Regions from separate parts of the Homo sapiens genome. Here regions 2, 3 and 4 are each reported to be linked to region 1. The links are microRNA targets in miRTarBase. Many come from high-throughput screens and were not tested one by one. Region 1 holds a microRNA gene; each other region holds the end of a gene's coding sequence.
What was found. The annotated mature microRNA hsa-miR-181b-5p reads AACAUUCAUUGCUGUCGGUGGGU and lies in region 1 at 1,048-1,070, shown strand. An mRNA with a match to its seed (bases 2 to 7 or 8) in the 3' UTR can be bound and repressed. Matches are read on the target gene's strand: a 7mer-m8 pairs with bases 2 to 8, a 7mer-A1 pairs with bases 2 to 7 and ends in A, and an 8mer does both.

Region 2: the mRNA of USP10 is a reported target of hsa-miR-181b-5p. The part of its 3' UTR that is shown has no 7-base or 8-base seed match.
Region 3: miRTarBase lists ELN as a target of hsa-miR-181b-5p. Seed matches in the 3' UTR shown: 7mer-A1 at 2,470-2,476.
Region 4: the mRNA of CENPO is a reported target of hsa-miR-181b-5p. The part of its 3' UTR that is shown has no 7-base or 8-base seed match.

Annotation. Positions count from the first base shown.
Region 1 is chr1:198,856,837-198,859,994 of GRCh38, reverse strand. It overlaps MIR181B1 (microRNA 181b-1), which reads left to right and starts at 1,013; the gene lies at 1,013-1,122. The region is part of intron 2 of MIR181A1HG (MIR181A1 host gene); the gene reads left to right. It overlaps MIR181A1 (microRNA 181a-1), which reads left to right and starts at 842; the gene lies at 842-951.
Region 2 is chr16:84,778,837-84,781,994 of GRCh38, forward strand. USP10 (ubiquitin specific peptidase 10) reads left to right here. Exons shown (of 14, transcript NM_005153.3): 14 at 59-1,086. The coding sequence ends at 246. It also overlaps a transcript of LOC105371378 not described here. Among named protein-coding and RNA genes, the nearest start is that of CRISPLD2, 40 kb to the right of the region's middle.
Region 3 is chr7:74,068,234-74,071,233 of GRCh38, reverse strand. It overlaps ELN (elastin), which reads right to left. Exons shown (of 33, transcript NM_000501.4): 33 at 1,327-2,577. The coding sequence ends at 2,534. Among named protein-coding and RNA genes, the nearest start is that of ELN-AS1, 7.5 kb to the right of the region's middle.
Region 4 is chr2:24,817,244-24,820,401 of GRCh38, reverse strand. CENPO (centromere protein O) reads right to left here. Exons shown (of 8, transcript NM_001322101.2): 7 at 2,561-2,732; 8 at 1-1,048. The coding sequence ends at 2,596. ADCY3 (adenylate cyclase 3) reads left to right here. Exons shown (of 22, transcript NM_004036.5): 22 at 288-1,233. The coding sequence ends at 470. Among named protein-coding and RNA genes, the nearest start is that of CENPO, 25 kb to the right of the region's middle.

The sequences.
Region 1 (3,158 bases):
ATCCAAGGTGACTTTTGTTTTAATTGATGGTAGAAAATTATTGAAAATGGCTCTAAAAATAAATTCAGTAGAGTTCATAATAATTTTAAAATAAGCATTAATGATAAAACAGTCTTAGAAAATAAGACTATGAAAAGAATCCCTCACCCATCTACCCATAAAGAGATGTTAGATGTTAGATGTTATTTAAAATAATAGGAAATGAACGGTTTTGTAGCATACATAGATTGTATTTACCTTTCACTGTATTCATGAACTCTTTGTGCCATAAACTAAGAAAAATGTATTGAGCTGGTTTCTTCACTTATAATTTGTTCAGCATTTTCTAAATAAGATTGTTCTTAGGAAGTTATACTAATTTTAAAACCTTATTTTAGAATAAAATATAGTAAATATATAATGTAAATATAAATGATATCATCAATGCCAATTTGAGGAAATCTAAGGTAATTCTGTTTAATTTCTGTATAAGCTATATACATAATGCTTGCTTACTATAAGCGTAACAATATTTAAATTATAAGATATTGTTTGGATTTTATACCACAAAGTACTTTGAATAACAAATTGTCCCTGTCTTTAACAGTGAGATAATTCCATCTCTGGAACTAGCCCAATATCGGCCATGTTTTTGCTTAATGAAACCGATCCTTTTCTCTCATACAATGTGATGTGGAGGTTTGCCAAACTCTTTGTTGGAAGAATCATGCTTCTTATTTGTCTTCTTTTGTAGTCTTTTGAAATGGCATAAAAATGCATAAAATATATGACTAAAGGTACTGTTGTTTCTGTCTCCCATCCCCTTCAGATACTTACAGATACTGTAAAGTGAGTAGAATTCTGAGTTTTGAGGTTGCTTCAGTGAACATTCAACGCTGTCGGTGAGTTTGGAATTAAAATCAAAACCATCGACCGTTGATTGTACCCTATGGCTAACCATCATCTACTCCATGGTGCTCAGAATTCGCTGAAGACAGGAAACCAAAGGTGGACACACCAGGACTTTCTCTTCCCTGTGCAGAGATTATTTTTTAAAAGGTCACAATCAACATTCATTGCTGTCGGTGGGTTGAACTGTGTGGACAAGCTCACTGAACAATGAATGCAACTGTGGCCCCGCTTTTTGCTGTCACAATCAACAGATATTCCATCTTTGAAAGATGTGTTCAAAATAGTACTATTGTTCTTTAAGTTTTCCAATTCGTCAGCATCTTCTGGTTTATTTATTCAATTTATATCATGTGATGAGATTTCAATGAAAAAGACTCTGGTTTAAACAAGAATAATGCTTCTCTATCTTTTGTATGCTATAAACAGAGCATGTTTTAGAAAAGGCAAAACTATTTTGTCCATCAAACGTACAGTATCATCATCTAGGTTAGCTCACCTTCCTACTGTTGTAGTGTGAGTGAAAAAAAGACATAAAGTAGGACCTCAGCACCCATGCCATTGACAATAACACACTTACAAATATGTGTTCTTTACAACTTTTGTTAGATGTTCTGGTCAAAGTGGGATAGAAACACCAGATAATTTTAGCTTTCTGCTTCTCTGGGTGAGGATTTGCTCATATAATTCTGCCTCTTGCTATGTAACATGCTAAATACGAAGAAAATAATATATACATAACTATATAACTATCAGAACACTCATGACAGTCATATAGTAGATTGATTTTCCCAATTCAATTTCCACTTTAAAACTTTACCCACTTTCTATGTGCATGAACTGCGTGGTTAGACTTACAGTCATGGCCCATTAATTGCCTCATGTTTACTCATCTGACTTTGCAAGTAAAAGCCTATGCATATCATGGTTTTTCTTAAGTGGTTTGCCTCTGCATTTTTATATAGGACATCTGTCATTAAATTTGATCACAGCAGTTTTAAGTTTACCATTTGTAATGATAATAATTATATAGCAAAATAAAATGCTTTCTCAAGTGTCTATGTTTGGAGTACCTGGATGGCTTCAATGTTCATTTTTTTTTAATGGTCAAATAAATTATCCTTTCTTTTCCTTGATCTTTTAAATCCCATTTGCCTTTAACTCCCATTACAGAAACCCATTGCTGGGACCCGGCTCTTGACCTCATCATAACCTTAAAATATTTTACCACATTCGATATCTAATATCCCACTCTGTCTATCACTTCTTACCATTCTAGTTTCTCATTCTCTTATCTCCAAGGCAACTGTCCTTTCAATATCAGTGTTGCTGAAAAATAAAATCACATCATCATATGGACACATTAATACACATACTCAGGGGCCTCCAAGTGCCTCAGTCCCTCAACTCTGACCCAGCATTTCTTCTACTCCACTCCCTCATGTTTAGCCTAAATGTTTACCTCTTTCCTCAACTGCTCCTTTCCACGATTCCACTCTCAACAGATGAACTGACTTCTGTTTTTCATTGAGAAGCTTGAGTCCATGTGATTATTCCCTCCACTTCCTTGTTTATAGCCTATGAATGCGTAGGATTCTGCCCTGAGTTGTCTCACGTGAGCCTCCTGCCTTGCTTGGGACATCTCTTCCCCTGTGATATCCCCCTCCTCTCTCACCATCTGGCTCCATTTCACATGTAACAAGGTTCAGTTTTCTCTCTTCTCAAATAGAAAACAAAAGAAATTTGAGAAAAACTTCTCTATACTTGCTTTATCCTCAAGTTACTTACCCCACTTCTTTTCTTCTTTTTAAAAGCTAAGATTTTAGAAATAGTACATAGTAGCCTGCAGCACTGTCTATATTTGTTTACTTCCCATTTCACCTCAACTATATGTAATTTGGCATCTTCTACCATTTCTCTCTCCCACTTGTGCATAACATCATTCTAATGACACTGCTTTTCCCCAAATCACCAGTGAGCTCCATATTGCCAAATACAAATCAAACTTTTCTGCCAGTTGTCCTACTCGAACTCCCCTTGATGCCTGACACAGCTGACCACTTCTTCCTAAACTCCAGTCCCCATTCACTTTTGTGATCCTACTCTCATTTGGATTTCTCTCTTTATTACAGTGATGTCCTATTTATTTATTTATTTTTAAGAAGCTCTTCATCTGCTTGAACTCCCAATGCCAGTATCCTTCTGAGACCCATTCTTAACTTTATGGCTTTTTTTCTCTTCTCTTGTCTCACAATCTTTGAAGGAATCTC
Region 2 (3,158 bases), not on the chromosome of region 1:
TGTAATGATTCGTGTGCAGTGCTGTTCTCACTCTGCTGCCTGCTGGGCTCTCTTCCAGTGGTCTACCATCACGGCAACAGTGCGACGGGCGGCCATTACACTACAGACGTCTTCCAGATCGGTCTGAATGGCTGGCTGCGCATCGATGACCAGACAGTCAAGGTGATCAACCAGTACCAGGTGGTGAAACCAACTGCTGAACGCACAGCCTACCTCCTGTATTACCGCCGAGTGGACCTGCTGTAAACCCTGTGTGCGCTGTGTGTGCGCCCAGTGCCCGCTTCGTAGGACACCACCTCACACTCACTTCCCGCCTCTCTTTAGTGGCTCTTTAGAGAGAAACTCTTTCTCCCTTTGCAAAAATGGGCTAGAATGAAAAGGAGATGCCTTGGGGTTCGTGCACAACACAGCTTCTGTTGACTCTAACTTCCAAATCAAAATCATTTGGTTGAAACAGACTGTTGCTTGATTTTAGAAAATACACAAAAACCCATATTTCTGAAATAATGCTGATTCCTGAGATAAGAAAGTGGATTTGATCCCCAGTCTCATTGCTTAGTAGAATAAATCCTGCACCAGCAACAACACTTGTAAATTTGTGAAAATGAATTTTATCTTTCCTTAAAAAAGAAATTTTTTAATCCATCACACTTTTCTTCCCTACCCTTTAGTTTTTGATAAATGATAAAAATGAGCCAGTTATCAAAGAAGAACTAGTTCTTACTTCAAAAGAAAAATAAACATAAAAAATAAGTTGCTGGTTCCTAACAGGAAAAATTTTAATAATTGTACTGAGAGAAACTGCTTACGTACACATTGCAGATCAAATATTTGGAGTTAAAATGTTAGTCTACATAGATGGGTGATTGTAACTTTATTGCCATTAAAAGATTTCAAATTGCATTCATGCTTCTGTGTACACATAATGAAAAATGGGCAAATAATGAAGATCTCTCCTTCAGTCTGCTCTGTTTAATTCTGCTGTCTGCTCTTCTCTAATGCTGCGTCCCTAATTGTACACAGTTTAGTGATATCTAGGAGTATAAAGTTGTCGCCCATCAATAAAAATCACAAAGTTGGTTTAAAGGTGTGTGCGTGTTTCTTTGAATGCGAATGCCTTTTCGGGTAACTGAAATTCATGGGGGCATGAGTTTGCCTGCAGAATTAAAATCTGCCCTTCGATCAGCTCGACGTGTTTGTGGAAGCTGAACCACCACTCAGGTTATGCTTGTTTAGTATTTTCAAATGGATTAGTGATTTGGGTACACGAAGTTTTTGACTCTTCGATTGGCAGAAAGGAGGAGGTTTTCTCCCCTTCCCCTCCTCATCCCTTGTTTCTATAGCCCACCGTTTTCAGTATCACCAAAATAGTTGCTGTAGGTCAAGGCTAAATGCTCTTCAGTTGAGTGCCACTGGGGCGGCTGAGCGGTGCCTCCAGACGCCACCCTCAGTAGTGGGAAGGAAGCCTTCTGAGACGGAAGACATGGAGAGAGGGATGTCACGTGCAAGGGTGCCCGTGCCCCGGCTTCTGGCCCTGTGTGGATGATTGTGGTGTCCTGAGATCTACAGAGAAGGGGTTTTAACGTGGTCTGAGCCTTTCTCTCAAGTTCTTGCTCTTACCATCTGGTATTTCTGATTGTAGCCTGGTGCCATCTGGGGTTCAGAGCTTCCTAAACTTTCTGTACAAGTGTTGTCCGTCTAACCTACTTACCCTTTGTAATTCTATTGTGATTTGCTTGGCTGAATTATAACTCATATTGAGAGGTGAAGCCAGCTGGACTTCCTGGGTCAAGTGGGGACTTGGAGAACTTTTCTGTCCTCTAAGAGGATGGTAAAATGCACCAATCAGCACTTTGTAGCTAGGATTGTAAAACGCACCAACCAGCACTCTGTAGCTAGCAAGAGGTTTGTAAAATGCACCAATCGGTTCTTAAAACGCACCAATCAGCAGGAGTCTAAAAGCAGCCAATCACAGGGAGGACTGAAAAAAGAGCACTCTGATAGGACAAAAACAGAACATGGGAGGGGACAAATAAGGGAATAAAAGCTGGCCGCCCCAGCCAGCAGTGGCAACCCGTTTGGGTCCCCTTCCACACTGGAAGCTTTGTTCTTTTGCTCTTCACAATAAATCTTGCTGCTGCTCATAGAAAGATGCAAGCTAGTGCTAGCGAGACAGCCTGCAAAACCCCTGTGTTGTTTTGGGCTGTTAACCATAGTCTGAGTGGCTTAGACAACAAACATTTATTTCTCACAGTTCTAGAGGCTAGAAGTCCAAGAGCAGATGCCAGCAGACCTGTCTGGGGAAGGCCTGCTTCTTGGCCTGGAGACAGCCGCTTGCTCACTATGTCTTCACAGGGCAGAGTGAACCCTGGTCTGTTTCTCTTACAAGGACACTCATCCCACTGTGGGCCTCCACCTTTGTGATTTCATCTATACCTAAAAGGCCCCACTTCCTAGTATTCCGCCGGGGGTTCAGGCTTCAAAGATGAATACTGGGGGCGACACAAACGGAGCCCATAACCTCATGCCGCCTGACTCCTGAGGCTGTATTCGTGATGAACGTGTGGCTGCCCAAGTTTTGTTTTGCTCAGGCAGGATCAGCACACACCCAGCCACAGACAGGGAAGCCCAGAGCAGGGCAGAATATGGTCCCTCAAGTGAATAATTGGCCCAGGGATACAGAATTAGGTGATTCTAGCAAATCCAGACATTTTCTAGGGTGCCAGTGAATTTTGGGTCTGTCCCTGTTAGCTGTTCTTGAGATTTTGCACTCAACTTGCGATGGTTAATACGGAGTGTCAACTTGATTGGATTGAAGGATGCAAAGTATTGTTTCTGGGTGTGTCTGTGAGGGTGTTGCCAAAGGAGATTAACATTTGTGTCAGTGGGCTGGGAAAGGCAGACCCACCCTCAATCTGGGTGGGCACCATCTAATCAGCTGCCAGCGTGGCCGGAATAAAAGCAGGCAGGAGAATGTGGAAAGACTAGACTAGTCTTGTGGCCTCCATCTTTCTCCTGTGCTGGATGCTTCCTGCCCTTGAACATCGGACTCCAAGTTCTTCCGTTTTGGGACTTGGATTAGCTTCCTTGCTCCTCAGCCTGCAGACGGCCTACTGTGGGACCCCTTCTTGTAAGTCAATACTCCTTAATAAACTCCC
Region 3 (3,000 bases), not on the chromosome of region 1:
GTTGATGGGTGGGTAGGTGGACAGATGGGTGGGTGGATGGGTGGATGGATGGATGGATGGATCTACTTTGTCACCACTCTAGGGCAGGCTGTGTCACCCCTCCCTGGATTATTACAGCAACCCTCTTGTGCATCTCCTTGAACCACGCCGCTCACCCCCTCCTGATCATCCTCCATAAGTCCTCAGCACTGCCCTCTCCTACCAGACATCTAGTTGTCCTGTCCTCTGCCTGAAAGGCCTGACCCTCCTCTCTGTTCTATTCTTTGCCTGGTAAAATGTTTTTTGCCCTTTACTGTCCTCTGGGAAGCTCTCTCTGAGCATACCCTCCACCAGCTTTCTCTTTCCCTCCCAGCTCCTTCTGGGATCGCAAGGATCCTCGTATGCAAACCCACATATGCTCCAGTCTGCATGGTGAGCCCCACCCACACTCCCCACGAACAGCTCTGTTGCCACATTTCTGGCTTAGAGGTGTGCACACTCAGCACGGGGCCCGCTCTCAGGAGGGTGGCACAGGCCTGAGGCTGAGTGAGCCCTGGAAGTGGGCTTGGTGGTTGGGGAAGGGAATTCCAGTATCTGGTATCCAGAGCGTGGTCTAGAGGTAGGGATGTGGGCTGCAGGTGAACACATTCCCGGGCCCCACGGATTTCTGGCCTCAAGGGGAGGAGGAAGGGCCAGAATGGGAATGGGTGCATCTGAGTAAGGGTGGAGCTGAACCTGCTGCTGGGTATCACTTCTTAAACTTCTCAAGCCAAATGGCCTTACATGGCCACGCATGAGAGTGGGTCTTCCTCAGAGGGGACTGTTTCGGAGGAAAATGGTTACCTTTGACTGTCTTCTGCATTTTCTTAGGTCAGCCATCTTTCCTCTCTGTCTCTTTCTGTTTCTCTCTCTCTCTCTCTCGAGACAGGATCTTGCTGTCTCACCCAGGCTGGAGTGCAGTGGCGCAATCATAGCTCACTGCAGCCTCGAAATCCTGGGCTCAAGCGATCCTCCCACCTCAGCCTCCTGAGTAGCTGGGACCACAGGCATGCACCACCACCAATCTTGGGTAATTTTTTTTTTTTTTGTAGCTATATGGTACAAAGTGATTCTCCACTGGACAGCTATGTTGTCCAGGTGGGTCTCAAACTCCTGGCCTCATTGTTAAAGTACAAGCCAAACTTGGAGAAAGATCGATGCCCCAGAAGCCAGCAGCAGGGGCTTTTGGTTGGGCAACCTCTCAAATACACTGTGGGTGGTGGAGGTTCCCTGAAGCAGAGCCCTTATCCCCATCCAGGCCAGCGAGTTGAAGGCAGATTAAATCATACGAAGGAAGCTAAGACACAGTTTCCTTTAAAGGTTTTTCATTTATTAGTCATTTCTGAAGCAGTTAATTCTCTTTTCTTATTAAAAAAAAAGGTGTGTTTCATCCAGAGTTATATTAGAGTGATTAAAATGTTTTTTCTACTGGGGATACAGCTCCCCGGATCAGAAAAAAAAATTATCTTTTTTTTTCAATGAACCACAACAATAAAACCAAAAGAGAATATCAACAATCAAAAATAATCCCCAAATATCCAGGACAAAAAATAAAATATTTATTGATCTATCACAGCGAGACACAAAAAGATGGGCGGGGCAGGAATGGGAACTGCTCTGAAGTTCAGTGGACCGAGGGAGGGATGGGGGGTATACAGTACTGCATGTGGGGACACCCCGGGTGGGGAGGAGATGCCTGGCACCCCAGTCTGCACAGCCCCGCACGCCCTGGGGGAGTGTAGGATGGGGGTGGAGGCAGGGCACAGGCGGCCATGACAGGTCAACCAGGTTGATGGTGGGTGCACCCAGCCAGCTAGTGGTGCCGGGCGGTCAACTGGGGACATGGATGGACGGACCGATGGATGAATGGACGGATGGGCGGATGGATTCTACAAGGGCAAGGTGGCTATTCCCAGTGTGGGGTGGTTTTCCAACCCAAAAGCGCCCCAGATGTGGGGAACAGCGATCGGTGGGGAGGAGACGGCCAAGTGGACCCAGGAGAGGAGGGATGCTAGAGCGAATCCAGCTTTGAGGCTTCAGGTGCTTGGGTACCAACTGGATGGCAGCCAACGGTGGGTCCTGGTGGGCAGGGGGAGCTGGGACTGCCCAGGAAGTGTCTGCACCATCTTTAGAGGAGCCCCAGGTAGGGGGTTCCCCGAGGGGCCACCCTTCCCTCCTCCCTCCCCCCAGGAAGATAAGAGCACCAGCGTGTAGCACCAAGTTCCCCTGGAGATGGAGGCTGTGTGGAGGGGGAGCTCCTAGGTGGGAAGGGATGGGGTGGGGGGCCAGGACCACATGGCCCTTGCCTCTGAAGTAGGGGGCCTCCTGGTCGGGGCACTTGGCCGCTCCCCTCTTGTTTCCTTGCCCTGTGGATCTGCAAGGCCGCCCGGCCTGCCCGTTCCCTCCTGGGGTGGGGAGTCGGAGGGGCATGGGATGGGGTTACAAAGGGTTTACATTCTCCACCAAGCAGTAGCACCAACGTTGATGAGGTCGTGAGTCAGGGGTCCTAGGAAGCTCATTTTCTCTTCCGGCCACAAGCTTTCCCCAGGCAGGCCCCACCTGGACGGGAGGAGGTGCACATCACTGTGAGTCCGGCCCCTCTCAGTTTCGGCTCTAATCCCCGCCTGCTCTGACCCACTCGAATGGAGGCTCCAAGAAGCCAAGAGAAGCCAAGTCATGGCCCCAGGCCAAACTCAGACCTGATCCATGCCATCAACTTCCACTGGACAGATGGGGCGGGAGAAGCCCCCAAGATATTACTTGGATGAAACCAACGCTCGCAGAAAAGGGGGCAGGTCATGGGGCCTGGCTGGGGAAGGACGGGGCCTGGCACTGGCTCCTGGCTCCACTGCTCCAAGAAGCCTTTCGGGGAAAGGCTAAGAGCAGCTCCATCAAGGAACATGGGATGAAGGGAGAGTCAGTGTCTGCAGGAGACGGCCCTCTCAGGGAGTGGGGTGGACCCATACATCTGAGAGGGCATCA
Region 4 (3,158 bases), not on the chromosome of region 1:
GGCAGTGGCAGTTTCCAGGTAACAGTGCTGCCACCCAGGTGACCATGGCCATCCTAGGAGAGAAGTCTCTGGATGAGAGGAGGCCCCCAGCCAGTCACTCCAGGGTTCTCCTTCCCACCCGCTGCTCGCCACGGGTGGAAGGGCTTGGCCCTGGGAGGTTTGGGGAGTGTCCCGTACTGCTTGGGACCCATGGATCAGTGCTCGGCTCCAACCACCCAAAGCCCCCACCCGCCCTCAGTCTAGGCTCCCCCCGTAACGCCACGTTCTTGCTCCCCCTCCCTCTCCAGGTGGTAGAAGAAACCCAAGTCATCCTCCGAGAGTACGGCTTCCGCTTTGTGAGGCGAGGCCCCATCTTTGTGAAGGGGAAGGGGGAGCTGCTGACCTTCTTCTTGAAGGGGCGGGATAAGCTAGCCACCTTCCCCAATGGCCCCTCTGTCACACTGCCCCACCAGGTGGTGGACAACTCCTGAATGGCCTCGAGCCTGCAACAGTCCAAACCGGAAGGGAGAATTTATTTTTTGAAACTGAAGGAAGTCCCGACCTTCCTGGATTGAAGTGCACACTCATGGACTTTAGGTTTAGAAACCTCCTCAGCCTTCATTTGTTCGTGGATGTGTGAGCTCTGAGGGTGGCCCTGCTATTCCTGTGTGTGCCTGTAGTGTCCCCAGCATAGGGGTCTTAGGCATAGGGCTGAACAGTCCTTCCAGAGCCCTCGTTCCAATCCCTGCCGTCCTTGCCCCTGAGGGGCCCTGACCACTGTGAGCAGGAGGGTGGCAGAGCTGGGACAAAGCTGCCTTTGCCGCTGGGCTTTCCGGGACTGTGGAGGGAGCACAGGCGGGGAAGCTCCACTTCAGACAGGGCTTGGTGGGGCAGGACATGGCTCCCATTTTGAAGGGAGGTCTCCATGTGGTCCGAGTGAGGTGAGACGGCCCTCGTCCTGGTGTTCCTGATCATCTTGAAAGGTTCTTCTGGAACTCCTGTCCCCTTAGTCATGAGAACAGAAAGTGCAATATTTCCTTTCACCTGGCAGGGGAGGGGGGATTTATTTCTGAAAGAAAAATATATAAACAGATCTTCTACATTTATATTTTTAATCTTCTGTTAAATACACTTTCCGATATTGCCTTGCCTTTTGAGCTCTTGCTACAGTCGCCTTTGCTACTGCTTTAAGAGAATTTACAGGTATTGATAAAGAACAAGACTGTTTTATTAAAAGCTTTATTCAACTTGAAAGTGATTGTGGAAATTCTGTTAATATCACTTATCTGAGGAGTGCTGGTACTTTGCTGACTCATGCCACTGGTCCCCACCACAGGCCTGGAAGGCAAGAGCTTGAAGGTCTCATCATAGCTCACTGTACCCCGGAACGCCTGCTGCCTGGCCCTGTCTCTTTTATTCTTAAACTTTCTTCTAAAGGGTACTCCAAGCTGGCTTTAATCCCCTGCACTGTTCCTGGAGCTCTCCCACACGGAGGTTACTTCGTGGCCATTGCAGGGTTAAGTCTGAACGTGGCCTTGGGCCAGTCATGACTCCTATCTGTGCCTGGGCAAGGGAGGGCTACAGGAGAACCTGGTCAGCCAGACACAGGTTTTCATATCTGTGAGTGACCCACACGCCAAGGAACCAGAGGTGCCAGCAGGTCAGAGGCCCGTGGTTACGGCAAATCAGGACACTAACCGGAGAGCCTGCAGGAGAGGGAAGACCCGGGGGGCGCCTGAGTCCCCCTGAGTTAATGGGCAGATTTCTAACTAACTAACTGTGCTTTTTCAGAGGGGACTTCCTAGTACATTCACAGCTCTACTAAACTTTTAGGAAACAAAATATGAGACACACTGAACTCTGATTATTTTATCCTACTGCTTTCTCACACCATATTTATAAAGCAGTGGCCTAGAATACACTGCGCCTAACCAAACAAACACTGAAGAACTTCCTTTTCAAAAGTTTCAAACAGGAAAATGAGGAAAAATTACTTAAAGCTTTCATAAAAGCTAAAAATACTTTCCTTTTAAAAAAAAAAAAATATTGGGTCTTCCTTATTATCTTCATTAGTGAATGTGGGTTATTTTTCCATTTATTTAGATCAGTGTTTCTCAACAGAATCAAGCTATTGCAGTTTGAGTGGAGTGCTACATTTCTGTGAGAGCCCTTTCTGAAAATTTTAGGATTTTTGGCATCTCTATTCCTGGCATTAAATTAGTAGCAGTTACTGTGACAACTTAATTGCCTGGTCTTTCCCAGAGTTAATGCCCTCAATAATTTGATATTTTTCCATAAGTACTTCTTGAGTGATACACCTTTTTCAAAAAATGGCTTTTATTGCCCCACAAATGATTTTCAACTAAAATGTATGATCAACTAATACCTTTAAAAAACATCTTGAGCATTTTAAGAAGGGACCAGGTGATCATGGGAATTGTTCAAAAATGCCAGTGTCTATACTCAAACCTGCTCTTCCATCCAGATGAACAGGTAGGTGTCTGTTTTCATCAGAAGGGTGATGTACCCTTCATCAGACAGTACTACCCACCTGGTACTGTCTTCAGTACTGGTTACTTACCTCTGATGTGCTCCCAGTGCAGTGAAAACAATCTATTAGGAGACCAGACTCATATCCAACTTTTCTCCTTTTCTTGTAAATGAGGCAAACACTTGATGCAAGGGCTTCGTACAGAACAGAGTTTCATGAGATGCTCGTTGCTCCTCCCATGAAGTGGATAATACTTCCACTCCTAAAAAGAAAGATTCCATCAATCTCATTCAGTGCAGCTGGGGGAATCGGAGCCTGGATCACTGATATTCAATCTCATTCAGTGCAGCTGGGGGAATCGGAGCCTGGATCACTGACATTCAATCTCACTCAGTGCAGCTGGGGGAATCGGAACCTGGATCACTGATATTCTGGACCCACTGGACCCATACAGCTTTTTTTTTTGGTCTGGACTAAGGCTGCCCCTTACTGGACCAATGCAATCTAGAGACTGGGGACTGGAATCTAACTGCGCAGAGAAATCAAAGACCGATGGTGTGAAATCTGGGGCAGCTTCAAAATTTCTGCCTCCTAAAAACATTTCACCCAATTTTTCATTATTGCCCATGTCACATTTAACTGAAACAGGTTCACCAAAAAATCTCTCTCTCAGCCAGTCTGGAAGGAT